Regions from separate parts of the Homo sapiens genome. Here region 2 is linked to region 1. The links come from fine-mapping of genetic effects on gene expression. A gene starts in region 1. The other region holds a variant in brackets. All regions are shown on one strand. Distances are between the middles of the regions.

Region 1 (2,907 bases):
GGGATTACAGGCGTGAGCCATGCCAGGCCATGACAGCTAATCTTTAATGAGCCTGAGTTTGTGCCTGTTATAATAACTAAACATGCCCCAACTCAGCTCTCTCAACAATGGTGTGAGATAAGGACTCTTGTTACATCATTTAAAAAAATTATTATCGATAAGGAGACAGAGGCACAAAGAGGTTAATTTGGGGAGATCACCAACTAGGAAGTGATGGAAAAGGTAATGGGAAAAAAGGCACTAAAGGCGCAATGGCTTCAAAGCTTGAATGCAATGAATCAACACTTACTTAATGAGCATCTACTATATTCCAGGCATTGTACAATTACATAGGGGCATAATTCCTCCTCCTCCTCCACTTTCTCTTCCTCTCCCAACACCTAATGAACACTAGATTCTAGGCATGGTACAAACTTTTAAAATAATCCATTTTCGGGGGTGAGAGCGCCGTTCTATAGCTTGATTGTGGTGGTGGTTACAGGTCTGTACGAATTTGTCAAAACTGGCAGAACTGTGCACTAAGAAAGGGTGAATTTACTGTATGTGGATTATACCTTAAACAAACTCAACCCTCATCCTTCCATCTCCACTCCCCTACCCCAGCTACAGCGGCAGGGGGGTGTGAAACGGTCCCTGCCCCTAGGCTGGGGACAAGGGTGAGGGACGAGCCTTCAGGGGCGGGACCAGGTAAGCGCCGGGAGTTGTGCCCAGTGGGCCTAGAAGCCAGGGAAAGGGAGAAAGTGGCCCCAGCCGGGTGCGGGGGAGGGATGGGAAGAGCCGGTGGACCGCGGGGCGAACCCGGGAGGGCGGGGGGATGCCGGGAGAGAGGGAGGGACCTGCGGGCGTGGAGGGAGAGGCAGAGGGAAGGGAGGAGGGGTAGGCGTGCGCTCCGGAGCGAGCCGGGGACTGCAAGGCGGAGACAGCCAGGCCAGCGGCCGCCGAGGGTGCCCGCCCAGGCTACCCGCCCTCCCGGCCGCGGCGCGGACGGACCGACGGACGGCGCTGCGAGCAGGAGGCGTCCGGCCATGTTCAGCCGGAGCTCCCGGAAAAGACTCTCCAGCCGCTCGGTGAGTGTCCCCCGCTCGAGCGGGGCCGATCGCCGGGCACCTCCAGCCGGCCGCGAGCGCCCGCGCGCAGCCCCACTGCGCCCCGCGGCTGCGCACCTGTGGCCCCAGGTAAGCCGGCCCCGCGGGCGGGGCGCGTCCAGGGCGCGAGAGAGCGCTCCAAGGCGCGGGAGGGGTTAAGTTCCGACCCCCCGGCTGGGCGACAGTGAGACCCGAACCGTGGCCCTCAGGGTCACAGTCTGGGGGATCCCTGGAAAGCCCCCTCCCTCCGGGCAAATCGGAATCCCAGCACCAAAGCTCCAGCGTCCAGCCACTTGGAGCTCTAGCGGGGACTTTAGGGCCGTCTTTTGGGGTGTCCTCTGCTGCCCCCTTTCCGGGAGCACCAGCCCGGTCTAGGGCGGGCGCCCGATGCTCGCTTCTTGCGGACTCCAGGGAACTGAAGGGTCTTGCTTTTGTTTCTTAGAAACCCGTGACCAAGGTGTCTGGGGGAGACAAAGCCCCAGCCGTGGTCATTTCGTGGTGGTGTAGTGCCCATGCCGGAGGCAACCTGCCTGGGTCCGCGCACCCTTCCCCAAGCAGGCGGGAGACCACCCCTGGGGCACTGGCAGTGCCCCGCCCCGTGTCCCCCATACAGAAGAGGAGCAGTTGGCTCAAATCACAGGAGGTGGGGTGGGAGGGGCAGGCCATCCTGCCAGGGACACGAGTGGGGCTGTGGAGGGAGACCCCGTGGTGGAGACATGCGTGTGTTGTCTTTTTGTTTTGAAGTTGACCGGACTGGGGCGGATAGAGCGAGGCCAGCCATGTAACGCCTGTGGTGACCAGTGCCCTGGGTTCGCCTTGCATAAATGGAGGTAGGAAGCCGTAAATGCACAACACTACAGCAAGATAAAATATGCAATATGTAATATACATACATATATATATCTATAGATATATATATATTCCCCTCCGCCTTAAATCTCACTTGTAAGTCACATGGAAAGAATGCAAAGGCTGTTTCTTTAAGAGCGGAGCTACATCTGCTACAAATATTGGAGGTGGAAGTGGTGGCCAGACACTGGGAGATGCAGGAGAGCCGGGCTCAAGGCTGCGTTTCACTGATGTGAGAACTGTGGATCCCTAGCACGGGCACTATGTGTCTAGGTAACTCACTCCAAAACAATTCACCCTGGGCAAGGCAGTGTTGCCAAGTGCCACAGTGCTGTATGTGTAGGATTCCCTGGACTAGCTGGTGTTTTCCAGTTGTGTTTTTAATTCAGCGCCTGTAACTCTGGGTCCCAACCGCAAATCCATTGCTGCCCGCCTGGGCCGTGTCAACCCTCTGCGGCGGCCAGATGTTTCTTATTAAATGTGCCTTGAGTGTTGACTTCCAGGCAGCCCCAGCTTGGATTGGAATGATTACGTTTGGGAGACAAGGGAGCTGGTTGCCCTCCCAATGCATCTGGCTGCTGGGGCTCTGGTTGGGAAAAGTTGGGGTGCAGGCTTACAAGCTGTCAGTTTGCTGGTTTCAAGCAAAAGGTGAATCCTCCCTGGCGTCTTCATAAAAAGGAAAAACTGGTGACAGGAGAAAATTGTGCAATATCATAACACATTCTCTCTTGGATTAGCGCATCTTTCCCCCTTTCTCCACCACTCAAGCTGCTTATGAAGAGGGCTTTTTCTGGATGCTAGGCAGAAAAGCCTGCTTTGATTCCACACCCCGCCCCCCGCCCCCCACCCCCACCGCATTAGTGCATCTCTACTTTTCCCCATTTGTAATGTGTGCTGGGCACCCAGTTATAAGAAAACTCCCAACCAGCTCCTTCAGAAATTAAATGCTTTTGTTCCTGCTTCAGATGGGTCT
Region 2 (2,907 bases), 31 kb after region 1:
GATTGCTCCAGCCAGGACTTCTGCTACATCAAATTTTTTAAAAAATTGAATAAACATATTTTAATGTAATTGATTTTCCCTATAATCTGATATATCTTAATCACTCATTTTACTTTGAGAAGGTGTTCCAGGCTTTACCAGGTGCCCAAAGGCATCTAAGGTTCAGAAAAGATGAAGAACGCTGACAGGAGTTCAGGGGTGGGAGTGGGGAGTGGGAGGATGTGGCCTCAGGTATTTTTCTTGTTGCCTCTCCTTAGAAGTCTGTGAACACAGCTGATGGTTTTGGGATAGTTTTGGCTTTTCTTTTATATATGTTTTTTATTTTTGTTATTATTTGTTTTTCACGCTTGGCTTTCCATGATTTTTTTAAAAATTATTTTTATTTTTTTGAGACAGGGTCTCACTCTATCACCCAGGCTGGAGTGCAATGGTGCTATCTCAGCTCACTGCAGCCTTGACCTTCCGGGCTCAATCCATCCTCCTACCTCAGCCTTCCATACTACAATGCCCAGCTAATTTGTGTATTTTTAGTGGAGACGGGGTTTCACCATGTTGTCTAAACTGGTCTTGAACTCCTGAGCTGAAGTGATCTGCCCACCTTGACCTCCCAAAGTGCTGGGATTACAGGCAGGTTTTGGCTTCTCTCAACCACACTACTGAGTAGTCTTTATTTTTAAATCAAACTTTGCTTTTTACAAAGAAAAGCATTTTTCTGGTCGGAGATTTGTCCTCCTTACTCATGTGTTCTGTGAAGCGTCTATTTCTTTGAATCTTTTCGTACAGTCAAAATGAGAATGTCCAGAGGTGAGTCAGAGCTTCTCAAAGGACATTCGTGTGTTTCCACCTTTTCCAATAACCAACCCATTCTTCCTGTTTACTAACAACCACATAATACACACACGCATGCCCTAAGGATTCCCTTCCTCTTCTCTTCACTGCATAGTGAACATTTTCTTGCCAATCCTCCTCCTAATCAGTGTTCAAAGAGGGGAGAAGGCAAAACCAGGACATCACCAGAACCCTCCGCGAACACCTTCCTCATCAAGAGAAAACTACTATGTGCCATTTGGAAAGGGGCCAGGCCTGGCATCTCCATCTTTTCCTCCCAGACTGTATTGCTTAGAACATTTCTTCCCAAGCCCAGTCACTCATGGCCCCCTCCTT[G/A]CCTCTGGCCATGTCTAAGGACCTTTCCTATTGCAGAGAGGAGCTTCTGTGTTGTGCTTCTGTTAGGAGCTCTGGCTCGGAGCTCAGACTGCATAGGTTTCTAGCCCAAATCTACTCCTGAGCCCCTGTGTGTTTTTGGGCAAGTTGTTTCACCTCTCCAGGCCTCAGTGTCACTTTCCTTATCTACAAAGCAGGGATTGGAATAGTACCTTCCTTAGGGGGTTGCTAGGAGGACTGAGTGAGTCAATACACGAACCGTGTTGAGAGCAGTGTGTGACACGTAATAAGCATTCAGCAAGCATTGGCTATCAAAATTAGTGATTGTTGACTTAGCATTTTCTTTAAAACTAGCCCTTAAAAATCAAGATGAGCTTAATTTAGAAAGGAAACTAGTGGATAGTAAGAGGGAAAAAAAGACAAGTTTAAGAGTAGGCAAGACCATGGTTTCAGGCAGAAAGGGTTGAACTCCAAGGGCAGGAAGTGGGAATTCCTGAGCCAGGTAGAAAAGCTGGGCCTGGGCATAGTGCCTGTGGTGAAAGAGGTGGTGGGAACAAGGAGGGCTGGCAGGACCCGGGGCATCTGACTGTACATGGACATCCGGGGTTTGAGGCTGGGGAAAGACAAGCTGGATGAAAGATTAGAGAGGGTAGGGGCAGAAGTTGAGAAACACAGGTTCTGTAACTGGGGTGAGGTGCCAAGATAAAGGGTCATGGGAAGAGAGAGACGTAAGTTGGAGCCTAAGGACAAGCTCTAAGAAAGGACCTGAAGGAATGGGAGGCTGGAAGAGGCAGGGGCTGAGATTGGGGGCAGGTGGTACCTTAAGGCATAGTATTAATATATGATTAGGGTATGAGACCCAATGACATATAGTGAAGACTCTTCCAAGGGATGTGCAAGCATGGACATCCTTTTAACAAATTTTGTATTGAAATACAACATGCATAGGTAAAAGTACACAAATCATAAGTATACAAAAAGAAAATTTTTCCCCAGGTCGAACACTCAGGGCCTGGACCAAGAAACATTACCAGCTTCACTACATGGTGCTCCCATCGTCGATACGTGTGCCACACATTAGAAGACACTCAGAAGAATTAGATTGGGTGGGCATAATCCTCTTAGTAGGGACTTTGTTTTTATGCTGGAGTCATGAAATTCGGGTGCACATTGTAGCAATGAGGAGGGTTGAATAGCTCTTTCCTTAATAGTCCTAGCAATGAGTAAGGACAACTGGCCAAGTGTATGCCTAATATTTCCCCATTAGGCAAAGAAAAAAAGAAAATAACCAAACATAAAAGAAAGGGATGAGAACGAATGTTTGCTGGACCCCTACTTTGTGGTCCCTACTGTGGTAGGTGCTTATTCATATGCCTTCCCTTCAGTGCTAACAACAGCTTTACAAGGTAGGTTGCCATTTTACAGAATAAAACTGAGTCTCAGAGTCCCGGTATTGACTTCACTCACACTGCTGATAAATTACAGAACCTGCATTCAAACCCAGCTCTGTCTGGTCCTTAAAAGCTGGGACAAGTTGCTTAACTTTGCTGATCCTTATTGTTTCTCCTGTACATGAAGACAAGGATACCTTCCTCAAAAACACTGTTATGGGATCTAATGCAGGAGGAAGGCTATGAGGTTCATGGAGTTTTACAAGGAATAAATGAGATAATACACATTAATAAGCTTAGAAAAGTATCTGGCACTTATTAAACTTTCCCAGAAATGCTAATTACGACACCTGAC

Evidence for each region.
Region 2: its variant is fine-mapped to the expression of PRICKLE2-DT in nasal epithelium (TOPMed, PIP above 0.99).

The regions. Positions count from the first base shown.
Region 1 is chr3:64,443,491-64,446,397 of GRCh38, reverse strand. PRICKLE2-DT (PRICKLE2 divergent transcript) reads right to left here and starts at 1,141. Exons shown (of 4, transcript NR_183714.1): 1 at 991-1,141.
Region 2 is chr3:64,412,169-64,415,075 of GRCh38, reverse strand. No RefSeq gene overlaps it. Among named protein-coding and RNA genes, the nearest start is that of PRICKLE2-DT, 32 kb to the left of the region's middle. The variant G/A (reference allele first, on the strand shown) is at 1,165.